Homo sapiens: one gene and its partners. The protein of the gene in region 1 purifies or fractionates together with the protein of each later gene. This does not show direct contact. Each region holds a gene or a part of one and is shown on either strand. Other genes may lie near its edges.

Region 1 (3,564 bases):
CCCCAGGTCCCGGTGCAGAGGGAGTGGCCTGATGGTGACTGGGCGGAGGCCTCTGCCCCTCACAGGACGTCGTCAAAGTCCAGCAGCTTCGAGTGCTGGCGGCTCTTCCACAGGCGATACAACCGGAAGTCAAAGTACGTCTCGATCATCTGCTTCCCTGGGCGGAGCGGGGGCAGGAGGCTCAGGCCTGGCCGGCCCTGGGGATCCCACCCCACCGTGGCCCCGCAGTGGCTGCAGAGCTTCGGCCCAGCCTGGGTAACTCACCTTGGGCTGAGAGCTCCAGGGGTGACTCGAAGGTGACCCTATAAGGAGTCATGAGGGTCCTGAGGTTCTGGAACAGCTGGAGGAAGCGGGGTGCCATGAGTCCGAGGCAGAGAGATGGGGAAGGAGGAGCGGGGAGGAGATGGGGAGCAGGGCCCACCCTCTTTTTTCAGACCCCCCAAACCTGGCTGGGCTCAGGCATAAAGGATTTCTAGGGGAATGCCCGGGGGAAGGAAAAAAAATGCCAGGAAACATGGAAGGCTCTGCCCTGTCTGTCCACGTCGGGGGTTTCCAGAGGTCTGGGGTGGGGCTTGGGGGTCACTGTACCTTCTCTCCATTGGGGTTCCCCAGAATGTAGCAGCCCATGATGTGGATGACGTTCGGCTCTGGGTTCACTTTGCTCATCAGGCGGCTCAGCCGCTTCCAGAAGCTGGTGGAGAGGGGTGGGTCACCCAGTGGCAGGGGACAGGCACCCCACTCCACAGAGCGGACCGTGGAGGAGGGGCTGTGGGGGAGGGACATGCCAGGGCCTGGACTCTGCCTCCAGCCCTCCCCGCGCCCAGGGCACCCGGCTTCTCACTGAATCATGTCCTCTTCCTTCTCCACTTTGGCAAAGGTGGCCACCTTGTTCTTGAGGAGATAGAGGTGTCCAGGACCTCCCTGTAAGAAGCTGTGGTCAGGCATCTGCTCCTCCTTCCTCCCCCTCTCCGACACACATGCACCCACGCACATGCGTGGGAGGTAGTTTTGGTCTTCATCCCCCGGCCACGCTTCTTCCCCTTGATCTCCCCCACCACACGTCTTTCCCTTGATCTCCCCCACCACACGCCTCTTCCCTTTGATCTCCCCCCCACGCCTCTTCCCCTTGATCTCCCCCACCACATGCCTCTTCCCTTTGATCTCCCCCACCACACGCCTCTTCCCTTTGATCTCCCCCACCACACACCTCTTCCCTTTGATCTCCCCCACCACACGCCTCTTCCCCTTGATCTCCCCCACCACACGCCTCTTCCCTTTGATCTCCCCCACCACACGCCTCTTCCCTTTGATCTCCCCCACCACACGCCTCTTCCCTTTGATTTCCCCCACCACACGCCTCTTCCCCTTGATCTTCCCCCGCCTCTTCCTCTTGATCTCCCCCCCTCGCCTCTTCCTCTTAATTCCCCCCAATGCCTCTTCCCCTTGATCTCCCCCACCACACGCTCTTCTCCTTGATCTCCCCCCAATGCCTCTTCCCCTTGACCTGCCCGCCACGCCTCTTCCTTTTGATCTCCCCCCCACACCTCTTCCCCTTGATCTCCCCCCCACGCCTCTTCCCCTTGATCTCCCCCTCCACACGCCTCTTCCCCTTGATCTTCCCCTGCCCCTCGTCTCTTCCCCTTGATCTCCCCTGCCACGTCTCTTCCCCTTGATCTCCCCCACCACGTCTCTTCCCCTTGATCTCCCCTCCACGTCTCTTCCCCTTGATCTCCCCCTCCACACGCCTCTTCCCCTTGATCTTCCCCTGCCACACGTCTCTTCCCCTTGATCTCCCGCGCCACACGCCTCTTCCCCTTGTTCTGCCCTCCACGCCTCTTCCCCTTGGTCTTCCCCACCACACGCCTCTTCCCCTTGGTCTCCCCCGCCACGTCTCTTCCCCTTGGTCTTCCTTGGCCACACGCCTCTTCCCCTTGATCTCCCCACCATGCCTCTTCCCCTTGATCTCCCCCTCCACACGCCTCTTCCCCTTGATCTTCCCCTGCCCCTCGTCTCTTCCCCTTGATCTCCCCCGCCACGTCTCTTCCCCTTGATCTCCCCCGCCACGTCTCTTCCCCTTGATCTCCCGCGCCACACGCCTCTTCCCCTTGTTCTGCCCTCCACGCCTCTTCCCCTTGGTCTTCCCCACCACACGCCTCTTCCCCTTGGTCTCCCCCGCCACGTCTCTTCCCCTTGGTCTTCCTTGGCCACACGCCTCTTCCCCTTGATCTCCCCACCATGCCTCTTCCCCTTGATCTCCCCCTCCACACGCCTCTTCCCCTTGATCTTCCCCTGCCCCTCGTCTCTTCCCCTTGATCTCCCCCGCCACGTCTCTTCCCCTTGATCTCCCCCGCCACGTCTCTTCCCCTTGATCTCCCCCGCCACACGCCTCTTCCCCTTGGTCTTCCCCCGCCACGTCTCTTCTCCTTGATCTACCCCCCAAACACCTCTTCCCCTTGGTCTCCCCCAGCCACACGCCCCTTCCCCTTCATTTCCCCCCCGCCACACGCCTCTTCTCCTTGATCTTTCCCCCTCAATGTCTACACCTCTTCTCCTTGGTCTTCCCCAACCCCAGCCTCTTCCCCTTGGTCTCCCCCAGCCACACCTCTTCCCCTTGGTCTCCCCCAGCCACACGCCTCTTCCCCTTCGTTTCCCCCCGCCACACGCCTCTTCTCCTTGATCTTTCCCCCTCAACATCTACGCCTCTTCTCCTTGGTCTTCCCCAACCCCAGCCTCTTCCCCTTGGTCTCCCCCAGCCACACCTCTTCCCCTTGGTCTCCCCCTCAAACACCTCTTCCCCTTGGTCTTCCCACCCCAGCCTCTTCCCCTTGGTCTCCCCCAGCCACACCTCTTCCCCTTGGTCTCCACCCCCACGCCTCTTCCCCTTGGTCTCCCCCACAAACACCTCTTCCCCTTGGTCTCCCCACCCCAACCTCTTCCCCTTGGTCTCCCCCAACTTGACTTCTTCCCCTTGGTCTTCCCCTGCCCCACCACGATTCTTCTCCTGGTCAGGAGACGAGCACTGAGCCCCACCTGGCAGAAAATCAGCATTTTCCAGATCTTGGCTCCCTTGTGGTAGACGTTCAGCTTCCTCTCTATCTCCTCTGTGGGAGAGCGGGTGTGAGTGCTGCGGCCCCCACCCCAGCCCCAGGGGCACCCCCACCTGTGTCTGCCCCTCCCAGGCCTGGAACCAGCAGAGAGAAGGCCAATGAGGCACATACCAAGGATGTCCTCGAAGGTTGCGTGCTCATGGTCCTGGGGACAGACACAGGCCACAAGGCCACATCAAGGCTGCGTCAGAGCCAGCAGCGCCACAGCACCCTGGGGACCTGGGGTGCCGGCGCTGGCCCAGGGTGGGGCCGCAAGAGGGCATCTGTTGGGGGCAGGCCCGGGGCGGGACTCACGTAGAGGATGGGGATGATGGAGGGGTCATCCCGGCGGATGATAGTGGGGATGTACTCAGCCTTGGGCACCTTGGAGGAAATGAGCTGCGGAGACAAAGAGCTGCTCAGGGGCCCCAGGCCCATCCAAAAGCCAAGGGGCTGTGGGAGCCCCCATGAGGCTACC
Region 2 (3,564 bases), on another chromosome or scaffold:
AATTCTGGAAAAAATCAATCTCACCTAGTGTCACTGATCTAGGAGACACCTGGAGATGGAGGACTAAGAGTGCTGTGGTCCTCAGGGGGTTTCTGGATGGTGAAGATGACCTGCCCTAGGCAGCATTGTAAAAGCTGGGACCTCTACCCTCGGCTCCCCTGAGAACTCTGCCTGAGCCTCTGGGTCTCGGCGGTTGGGGTGGCCTGGGTGCTGGAGAGTCTCGTGCTGGGTGACTCCTCTGGTCTGCCTAGGAGCAGTCACTGGTCCTCACCCGAGACAGCCAAGCACAGCCGGGGCTGGGAGTGGATTCCCTGGGCCGGCCCCCTTGCTGGTGTCCTGCCTGCTTGACCCCCGTTAGCTGCCGCCATCACAGCCACACTCTGACATCCATCCTGACTATGGGAAGCATCAAATGAAGATGGCCAGGAGCTTCAGAACTCTTAAAACCTGGTGCCTGAAACAGCCAGGAAATTGGAGCCAGAGCTTAAAAAAAAAAAGGAAATAAACGAGAAGACGAAGGCCATCCTGATGCTCCCCCTTGTGCACACAGGGCAGGTGGTTGGAGGCATCTTTTCTGCCCCTGAGGGTCCCACCTGCTGCAGCGTGAACTGGCCACCTCATTCCATGGAGGACTTCGGAAGCCGGCCCCTCAAACCCTGCATCCTCTCTCAGAGGGTGGCCTGGGCCATTTTCCACAGGGAACGTGGAGCCCCTGACAGAGCTGGGAACTCATACCTGCAGGGCTGAGAATGGCTGAGGGCTCCTCCATGGTGATTATCCTCACCTTTCCTCAACCTGCTCACGTCCTTGGCAGCCTCAGACGCTGAGGGCATGAAAGGCCTCTGTCCTGGGAGAGGCGGTACAGCTGCCGCTTGATCCAGGAGCCTATACTGAACCATGGAAAGATCTAGAATCAGCCTGTCCTGAAATAAGGCAGATGGAAAACCTTCTAAACTTGGACCGATGAGACAACCTAGAACCCATCCAGCCCTGGAATGTGGGTGCATCAGGAGTCTTCTAGACCAACAGGACCAGCTAGAGCCTCAGCCAGACCTGACGTCAGAAGGGTTGGGAACTCAGCCAGGCCTAGAATGCTGCCTGCTTACATGGACTTTGGAGCTCCACTGGGAAGGGTGGGGAGAGTTCCCAGGAGGCTGAGGGTTTGGATCTGCTGACTCACCTTGGATGTAGCTCTTACTTCCCACCGGTGCCACACATGGACCTCAGCCACCTGCCAACCACTGCCCATGGTATCTGGCAGCCTGGGACAGACCCATCTGTCTCCAGGAATGCTGGGTGGCCCTCACTCTGACATCTGGATGCCCACGCTCTACTAGGCCAGGTCCTAGGGCCTTTGTAACTGGAGCCAGCCGTGGAACCCACAGCCTTTCCAGCAGGGGCTGTGACCTGCAGTGCCATTGTCACCAGGCCTAGGGGGTTGACAGGGCTCATCGGCCTTTGGAGCTCTGAGATGAGTTGTATCTGGGTGGCTGCAGCTCTGGGTCCACAGACTCGGGCTCACAGCAGACTCTGACCTCCCCATGCCCATCCACGAGACAGCCTTGCCCTTTTCTTTCTTTCTTTTAAGCGACAGCGTTTGTCTTTCTTGGCCAGGCTGGAGTACGTGGTGTGATCTCGGCTCATTGCAACCTCAAACGCATGGACTCAAGTGATCCTCCCACCTCAGCCTCCCAAGTGGACTACAAGTGCATGCCACCATACCCAGCTAATTTTTAAATTTTTTGTAGAGATGGGGTCTTGCTGCGTTGCCTAGGCTGGTCTCGAACCCCTGGCCTCAAGCAGTCCTCCACCTTAGCTTCCCAAAGTGCTGGGATTACAGGTGTGAGCCACGGTGCCCAGCTAAACCGTGCCCTTTATACTACCCTGCTAGGAGAGAAACCTGCACCGTGTTCCCAGAGACTCCATACCCGGGCAGACCATCATGGCTGATGCATTGAGTGTGCTGGGCCATCAGAGCATAGGATGGTGTGGACGGGAGGCCCTGAGGGCAGACTTGGGGGCTCTGACTCCCTCAGCTCCTGCCCAGCTAGTGTGTCCTGGGTGCAAGTGGCAGTGGGGCAGGGCCCTGGAGACGGCTGACTTGGAGTGGACAGAGGAGTGGGCTGCTGTTAGAACAGGGGGCATCCCTGCAGGGGTCCCTGCTGGTGCAGGCAGAGAGTGAGGGGCTTAGGCTCCAGATTGTGTGCAGGCCGGGCTGGGAAGCCTAGGTCCCAAGTTGGAGCTACTGTTCTCCCAGCTGTGCAGAGAAGCTGCCACCTTGGCAGGGTCCAGCTGGGCAGGAGTGTGGCCCTGCCTGCTGAAGGATGTGGTGGTGCTGCCCTTGGGGAAATGATGCCAACTTCCCTCCTGTTCCCAAACCAAGCCCTTGGCTACTCCCACCCCTCTTTAGGGTTCCTAGTTATCCCTAGCTCGACCTGGGGTCTGCCAGGGCAGTTGCCAAACCAGAGCTGGCCACCCTGGGCACTGGGGAGGTGGTATCAGCCCTGGCTCTGAGGCCTGGCTCCTTCTCCCCGGAGTGGACAGGGACAGGCATCAGGGGCTCCCCAAGACCCTTCTCCTGGTCTTGCATTTGTTAGAACCATTGCCCTTCAGAGGACAGGGTACCGGCACCTGCCTTCTCTCCAGTCCCCATCCGCCACCACTAGGTGTGGTGTGCATACGCTCTGGCATGTGTGCACATATGTATGCACTGTGGTGCATGTGTGTGCATGGTTTCTGTGTGCGTGTGTGTATGCCTGTGTTGTGGCATGTGTGCAAGGGCCCTGTTGCATGTGTGTGCTGTGGCACACTTGCCATCCCTCCTGTCTGCCTCTGTTTCTCCCTGTGGGCTCCCTGAGTGAGCGGCAGTAGGGGATTTGTGCCGTCATGTCTCTGGGTGCCTGGTGTTGACAGGTGTGTGTCCTTTCCTGGATGTGTCTGGATCTGCATGATATGTGTGTGTTGGGAAGGAAGGGACCATGTGACCCTGTGCCTGTTGCACAGGCCTGTGTGTCTCACACTCGTTTACATGGGTTGGGTGGGGAGGATGTATGTCCTGGCTCGTTTACTGGGTGTGTGGCTGTTGGCCGGGGTGTTGGATGGTTCATGTGCATTTTCTGGGTGGGTCTATCTGGCAAGGGTGTGTGCACCAGGCCTGTGACCAGCTGGTTTGTGTGTAGGGGGTAAGGTGCCTGTGTCTTGCTATACCTTTCCAGGCCTGTAACATAACGTGTGTTGGCAGGCTGGTGTGTACAGCTGGGTGTGTCCCTCTCTGGCTGTGACTTGCGGGTGTAGGCAGGATGTGTGGTGTGTCCTGTTAACTGTAGCCTGGCTGCCCCAGGTGTGTGCAGATGTTGTCAGGCCTGGAACAGTTCCAGAGTCACCCATGTCAGGTCCCTCGCCCCTCCAGCCGTGTGGGCCCTCAGGAGTGGGGGCGGGGTGTGGGAAGACAGGCAGACTTGTCCCCATCCCTTCAGACATCCCACCTCGCCTGTCTCTCCCAGGATAAGCCGCCTCTTCAATGGCACTGAACCCATCGTCCTGGACAGTTTGAAGCAACATTAT
Region 3 (3,564 bases), on another chromosome or scaffold:
CCCCAGCTCACCACAGGGTCCAGCTCCACACTCAGCACTGCCCGGAAGCAGCCCAGCAACCTCTGTGCCCGCACCAGGTCAGCACTCGGTGGGTCCTGCAGGGGCCGGTAGCCTGCCACTGGGTAGGTGCCAGAGTTAAGCCAGCAACGCCTTATCTGTGGCTCAGACATGCCTACTCCCTCTCCACTGCCCACCCCCCACCCCGGGGCCTGGGCTCTAGGGCAGGGCTGGTTTGCATCACAACTTGCCCACTTATTCTCCCTAGGGAGGATGCTTCACATTCCTCATCTGTTCAGTGGAGACAAGGGCACCCAACCAACCAGGCTGCTGCGAGGAAAGTTTTCTTCGACACTCTACATGGCCCCCCACTAACTCTGCAGCAGCCAGGGCCTGCCACCAGCCCATGGCACCCCTGGGGTAGGGAGCCCCTCATCCCAGCCTCCCCAAGAGCTTCTGAGCAGCCCACAGCCATCTTCACAAAATGATATCGCAGAGGACGGCTGCCAAAGTTGAAGGCCACGGACTCCTTGAAAGAGAGGCTGATGGCTGGGAAGTAGGCCATACCCAGGCCCCTGGACAGGTTCTCAAAGGCAGTGCCCAGTGATACACCGTTCCTGGGGAGAAGGGTGGGTCTGTGAGCCAGTGCTAAGCATGTGGCTGCCCACCCTCAGGCTATCAAACTCAGTCTGGCCCCTTACAGGGCCCAGGAAACTGGGGGCAGTCTGGGGAGGCCCCAGGGGCCAGGCCTGTGCATAGAGATAGGAAACTCACAGGCAGAAGGACAGAGTGCCATCATCCAGGTCAATCAGGCAGCTCACGATGTCCCCCGCTGCCCACGCCTGCCATGAGAGGAGGCCTCACCAGATGCACAGAAGCCCAGCAGCCTGCTGACTCTGAACCCCAGCTGCGTTTCCAGAACCACCCAAGGGAGACTAGCCACAAGGACAAAGGACCTGGGTCCCTGACCCTTCCCTGGTGCCCTGTAGTCCCTTATGGCTGCCCAGTGGCTCCAAATAAGCTGTAGTAACAGTCATGGGGCGGATGACCCACAGGGGCTTGGCTCTCACCTTGCCATAATTCGTTGTGGTCACATTCCACTTGCGCACGCGGTTGCCATCATAGGCATAGGAGTTGTGTGTATCTCCAACCCCCTCCTAGGGAGGAAATGCCTATGAGGTCCCTGGTGAGGCAGGCAGGGTCTGGGCCAGAGCCCACCAATCACCAGCCTTGGATGCATATGGCTCTACAGAAGGGAACAGATGATCTGAGGGAAAGAGTAAGAGGTATTCTCTGAGCTGGGGTGCCTGGGATTGGGTGGGACACGTTTCTTCTCCAGAGGGCAGTCCAGGTTAGTTAGGGTCCTAGGCAGTTCTGAGGGGATCTGGAGACCTGATGAGGCCTGTGGCAGGAGAAGCTCTCCCTGGGCCCAGGGAGGGGTCCCCTCCCCAACGTGTACCTCCTGGTTGAAGCGGCAGCTGATGGTGCACCAGCCGATCTGCATGAGCCCCTGGGAGGAGATGAGGACCTCGTAGAGCCATTTCCCTGGAAAGAGCTGAGTTAGGGCCACGAGGTGGACAAAGACTGCCTCTTGCCTCATGCCTGGGCCCTTAAACTTTCTCCTCACTACCTAGGCCACAGCAGGGTAAGGTCTCACCTTTGTACACGCATGTGGTAGAGCGGATGGTGCCAAAGTTGCTGTGTCCAATCACCTGGGTGAAGAAGAGGGGTGGTGGGCTAGCTCCCAGGCACACAGAGCATCTCCCCAAGGGAAAAAGACCCCATCCCCAACTGAGCCAGCCCTGGTGGTATTTGCCTGTGGCGGCCAACACTGCACTGTGCCTGAGGACGGTGGGAGCGGGTAGGCTTGTATCAGGAAGGATCCTGGGCCAAGGCAGGATGAGAGAGGGACTCAGGGCTGTGCTGGGAAGGGCTGGGGGCTGAGTCCACATCAAGACTGTTTCAGGGCTTTAGTGGGAGAGTTTGAGGACTGAGAACACAATGGTCTGGGGCCACGTCAGGACAAGTTTTGGCTGCAGCCCCATCAGATGAGTAGAGAGACTAGGGCCACATCAGGAGGAGCCTGGGGCTATGTCAGAAGGGGCTGGACCTGGGTCTCCACACCTCACCCTCACTCACCCCCAGCAGGTCATCATCCACCAGGAGAAGCCCCTCAAAGCCGCCTGTGTGGTCCAGGACCACAGTGGATGGGCCAAGCCGCCCTTCAACCTGTCCTGAAAAGAGGAGAGGTGGGGTCAGGCAGGGTGGAGCATTTGACAGGATGCATAGGGTGTCCTGAGCTCACCAGACGTCTCCAGGCCCGCTACGTCCCAGCTCTGCACCTCCCAACCCCACTCCAGAGGTGGCCACATACCCTGGCTTTCCTCCTCCTCATTGTCCACCTGTAGCAACTGGTCCAAATGTTCTGGCAGGTTCTGGAAGTTCAGGGGTTTCCTGGGGAGAGTGAGAGGCTGCCAGGGGTCCACAAGTCCTTGAAATCAGCCAGATGACACTAAATCCCATCCTTTCCCCTGAGCTCACAGGGGGGCTGCCTAGACTCCAGAAAAAGGGCTGTGCCTAGTCCTAGACTCTGGCATGCAGGAGGTCAGAAGGCCGAATTCTCCACTAAACTCAAAAGTATAACCAGTCCAGGCCGGGTGTGGTGGCCCATGCCTGTAATCCCAGCACTTTGGGAGGCCGAGGCGGGCAGATCACCTGAGGTCAGGAGTTCGAGACCAGCCTGGCCACATGGTGAAACCCCATCCCTACTAAAAATACAAAAATTAGCTGAGTGTGGTGGCGCATGCGTATAATCCCAGCTACTCGGGAGACAGAGGCAGGAGAATAGCTTGAACCTTGGTGGGGCAGAGGTTGTAGTAAGCCAAGATCGTGTCATTGTACTTCAGCCCGGGCAACAAGAGTAAGACTCTGTCTCAAAAAAAAAAAAAAAAAAAGTATGTGGCCAGGTGCGGTGGCTCATGCCTGTAATCCCAGCACTTTGGGAGGCTGAGGCGGGCAGATCACGAGGTCAGTAGTTCAAGACCAGCCTGGCCAACATGGTGAAATTGCGACTCTACTAAAAATGCTGGGCGCGGTGGCATGTGCCTGTAATACCAGCTACTTGGGAGGCGGAGGCAGGAGAATTGCTTGAACCTGGGAGGCGGAGGTTGCAGTGAGCCATGATCGTGCCACTGCACTCTAGTCTGGGTGACAGAGCAAGACTCTGTCTCAAAAAAAAAAAAAAAAAGTAGCCCTCTCTAAGTCTTAATTCCTTCATCTGTAAAAACAGAATAGTGACTTATGTTAGAGATGCTGTGAAGAGCCCAGGGAATAACAAGTGCTGTCTGCATAGCACATAACCTGTCCGCTCTCAAAGGTGGCTGTGCTGATGATGTCTGGAAGAAGAAGGCTGGGAGAAATGCTGGTTCCCAAAGTGGTCAGTACCAAGGCCACCTAGTCCAACCCTTGCCCCTAGGCCTGTGGTTCCTTTGGGGCAGATTCCAGTCTCGCCACCACCCAGCCAGGGGAGTCTGTGTTGAATGGGACATGTTCTGGAAGTATGAAAGG
Region 4 (3,564 bases), on another chromosome or scaffold:
CCTCAAGAGATTCACTCGCCTCGGCCTCCCAAAGTGCTAGCATTACAGGCGTGAGCCACCGCTCCTGGCCTCATAGCAAAACTTTATGGCAAGAATGATCTGTTTATAACATATGGTTTTTAAAAAGTGGATTACCAACCTTAAACTGCTAACCACCAGGTCAAATGTATTTTCTTTGAAGGGAAGGAATTCTTCATCAGCTAAAACGCTGACAGTAGGTATTTCTGTTTCTGAGGAATTTTTCTAATGTTAAGAAAACGAAAGATCAAAATCACATTTATGTAGAATCTCAATTACTAACACAATCACTGTTTGTTAAATTGAAGTCAATGTTATATTTACTTGGCAGTTTCTACCCCCCTTCCCAAAGGTGGCACAGAGAAGGCACCCAAAAAGCATTTCTTAAATGACTTAACATCAGCCAGAAAAAATGGCTAACTAGTTGAAACAACATAAACAGGATACCAACCTCACACCAAAACAAATCTCAGAAAGCTAGTTTGGCTGGGCGTGGTGGCTCACGCCTATAATCCCTGCACTTTGGGATGCCAAGGTGGGCAGTCACTGAAAGTCAGGAGTTCGAGACCAGCCTGGCCAACATGGTGAAACCACGTCTCTACTAAAAATACAAAAATTAGCTGGACGTGGTGGCACGCACCTGTAATCTCAGCTACTCGGGAGGCTGAGGCAGGAGTATCGCTTGAACCCGGGAGGCGGAGGTTGCAGTGAGCTGAGATCGCACCACTGCACTCCAGCCTGGACAACAGTGCAAGACTGTCTCAGAAAAAAAAAAAGAAAAAAGAAGGCTGAAAGTTTTAGTGAAACAACCGAAGTACTAGATGAAAATATGGGTGGACTGGACATTTTACCCTTAGATGAAAAAGCCTAGGTAAACATAATTCAAAAGCCAGAAACTGTAAAGGAAAAGACTGATATATTTGATGATAAACTAATTAAAAACTTCTATTAATAGAAATCAATAAACAATGTAAACAACTGAGGAAAATATTTACAACATATACAATGAAGGATTAATATCCCTAAAAACCAAGCTCTTACAAATCACCTAGAATAAAAACACAAGATAGCTAAAGAGGACAAGGTGCAGGCATATCACAAAATTATTTACAAAATTCACAAGAAATACCAATAGTCAAAAGATATCAGCAGCTGTCAGACTGACCCAGACGAAAAGGCTGGCCCAGTGTTGCCAAAGCAAAGTAGTAAAAAGTACCTTTGTCATTGTTCAGTCTTTCTAAGGGCAGTCTGAAGATGTATGTCAAAAAATTTTTAAATGAACATCAAAATGAATCCATAAATTCCGCTACCAGGAATTTATACCCACGGAAAAAAATAAATCAAACATACAATGTGGCTTCACATAAGGATTTTCACTGCAGTGTTGGTTATTGAGAAACTAGAAACGTAACTGCCCTTCAATAGAAAGTTTAGCTAAATAAACTATGGAGTATTCATATATTAGAATACCATGTAGCCATTTAAAAAGATGATATATGACACACATAAGTATAAATTCACTGACAAAAAAAATGATGTGCCGTAAATAACATGGAATATTAGCATAGTAATGTTCATACACAGTTGTGTGTTGGGGGGGCGGGGACAGTTATATGTCTGCAAATGTGGAGACCAAGTGCCACCAATGGTTGCCTCTGAATGGTAGGACTAGGGGTGATAGGGGTGATTTTTCCTTTGTTCTTGATATTTCCTGTATGAGTTCCTTTTCATGTGTCAGAAAAGAAAGCTAGTTTGAAGGAAATAAAAATAAAGAAATAAAATATGAGAAAACACATCACGAGATTAGAAACCAACAGTATTAAAAAGCTACCTACCAAAGCATTTTCTGCAATGTCAGCTTGGAAAAACTTTCCAATAGTTTCCTGCAATGGAATAACTGAAGCTGAAACAAACAAATCCAGTCACAAACAATTGCTGACATTTCTAAAGGTAAAAGTGTTAATTACATTTTAATTTTCAGCTTTGTAAAGGTATATTTCTGCATAAAACCAGTATGGTACACAAATACTTTTAATAACACATATCCTTTGCTATATTTAACTATATGTAATAAAATAGAGAACATGAGTATGCGTATTCAACATTCCGAATTTACTACACTGGGTGAGGGCTTCCGTGTTAACTTTTCCATGGCATAACATGCTAAGAGCTATTTCCCCACTCCTGTGTCACAAAGGACCTGCTATGAGTTTCCCGCCTTTTAGTTGTTCATCCAAAGAGTTTACAGAGTAAAGAAAGACTTACAGGTAGAGGCTTAGGGTTCCATTTTCCCTGTTTCGCCTACCCTCTCTCCCTTCCAAAAGGAAAGGAGACTGTGCTATTTCTGCACCAGAAAAACACTTTCTTTCCCCCTCAGCCCTCTTTTCTCCGGGATCCTGCTCTCTCCATCTCCATCTCTATCAATCTTTAGTCTGTGTCTTCTGTGTCTCCTTCCTCCACCTTACAACAGGCACAAGCTTTCCAATTACAAAAAATCTCCTCCCTCTAGGTACCTTCTGGTTGTTTGGTTTATAATCCACAACTCTACTTCTTCCTAGATTCTTTCTCCCCATTCTGGGTATCTCTTTGCTTTCACTGCTCTGCTAACACTATCTGCAGTCTGTGCTCACTGCTCTCAGTCCTGCTTCACCTGACCTCTTTGAAGCACAGCATTGTCAACAGCCTACTAGAAGCTTCTTCAGAAGCTTCTACTCTGGCTGCCCTTCTCTATTAGAGAAGCCAATCCTTTTTTACTTTACCCACACCCACTTCCCTGTCTGAAACTTGGAAAGATTTCATGCTACCAACATGATGTTGCTAAATATGGAGCTGGGAAGAGTGCTCAATAGCTCTCATGAGCCAGCTCCAGCACACTCCTGTGAGGGGTGAAGAATTAGATGGACAGGATTATCTATCCCTGTCTCTCACTTGAAAATTTGAACTAAGAGACTTCGAGATAATAGCAGAGGTCCCTGGAGTTGGAAGAACATTTAGACTTCAGGGTATAGGCAGTGGTGTGCTGGCTCTTGGTTGGGGACTGCTTTGTAGCATTTGCCAACTTCCATGGTATAAATATTCCCACCAGGGCTGATGTCAAGCTATCAATATGATGTCACAGAACAGAGGTTGGGAAGAGATGCTAACAATTGGCTCTCACAGGCTGGCCTAAGCTAGCTTCAGCTACCCTTGGGTGTAGCATATTCATATGGGGCCACACACACTGATGAACACTACTATGGATAGACTACAGGGAGTAAAAAGAATGAAGGCAACCAGACAGCATTCATGTAGTACCAGAGTGCATGCGAACAGGAGGAACATTGTTATGGTGTTTCAAAGTTCCCATCTCTTGTGAGGCCTGGCTCTATTTCTGGATCCCTGAGTTACATAAGAGCCTCTCTGTAACAAATGTCTCTGTGTTTAAACTGGCTTCAGCACATTTTTGCTTTCAACAATCAAAAGATACCTTACTAAGACACTTTCCATCTTACTATTCCTGGCATCTTTATTGGCTCTTCCTCTTTCTCCCAACCCTAAGTACAATTG

What was found.
Region 2: the proteins of NSMF (region 1) and KCTD15 purify together in Homo sapiens (affinity purification with mass spectrometry; 2 studies listed by BioGRID and IntAct, with this or other methods). This does not show direct contact.
Region 3: the proteins of NSMF (region 1) and RNF123 purify together in Homo sapiens (affinity purification with mass spectrometry; 2 studies listed by BioGRID and IntAct, with this or other methods). This does not show direct contact.
Region 4: the proteins of NSMF (region 1) and NDUFAF5 purify together in Homo sapiens (affinity purification with mass spectrometry; 2 studies listed by BioGRID and IntAct, with this or other methods). This does not show direct contact.

What each region holds. Positions count from the first base shown.
Region 1 is NC_000009.12:137,449,335-137,452,898, forward strand, and holds part of NSMF (NMDA receptor synaptonuclear signaling and neuronal migration factor), read right to left. Parts: intron 3,486-3,564; coding exon 3,402-3,485; intron 3,253-3,401; coding exon 3,219-3,252; intron 3,102-3,218; coding exon 3,031-3,101; intron 922-3,030; coding exon 842-921; intron 753-841; exon of another isoform or gene 692-752; coding exon 589-691; intron 341-588; coding exon 265-340; intron 158-264; coding exon 60-157; 3' UTR 1-59. UniProt on the Homo sapiens protein: Couples NMDA-sensitive glutamate receptor signaling to the nucleus and triggers long-lasting changes in the cytoarchitecture of dendrites and spine synapse processes. Part of the cAMP response element-binding protein (CREB) shut-off signaling pathway.
Region 2 is NC_000019.10:33,803,360-33,806,923, forward strand, and holds part of KCTD15 (BTB/POZ domain-containing protein KCTD15), read left to right. Parts: intron 1-3,499; exon of another isoform or gene 3,500-3,503; coding exon 3,504-3,564. UniProt on the Homo sapiens protein: During embryonic development, it is involved in neural crest formation. Inhibits AP2 transcriptional activity by interaction with its activation domain.
Region 3 is NC_000003.12:49,696,030-49,699,593, reverse strand, and holds part of RNF123 (E3 ubiquitin-protein ligase RNF123), read right to left. Parts: intron 2,452-3,564; coding exon 2,372-2,451; intron 2,232-2,371; coding exon 2,137-2,231; intron 1,710-2,136; coding exon 1,655-1,709; intron 1,543-1,654; coding exon 1,457-1,542; intron 1,155-1,456; coding exon 1,068-1,154; intron 840-1,067; coding exon 772-839; intron 615-771; coding exon 489-614; intron 127-488; coding exon 12-126; intron 1-11. UniProt on the Homo sapiens protein: Catalytic subunit of the KPC complex that acts as E3 ubiquitin-protein ligase. Promotes the ubiquitination and proteasome-mediated degradation of CDKN1B which is the cyclin-dependent kinase inhibitor at the G0-G1 transition of the cell cycle.
Region 4 is NC_000020.11:13,791,517-13,795,080, reverse strand, and holds part of NDUFAF5 (arginine-hydroxylase NDUFAF5, mitochondrial), read right to left. Parts: intron 1,922-3,564; coding exon of another isoform or gene 1,902-1,921; coding exon 1,854-1,901; intron 244-1,853; coding exon 140-243; intron 1-139. UniProt on the Homo sapiens protein: Arginine hydroxylase that mediates hydroxylation of 'Arg-111' of NDUFS7 and is involved in the assembly of mitochondrial NADH:ubiquinone oxidoreductase complex (complex I, MT-ND1) at early stages. May also have methyltransferase activity.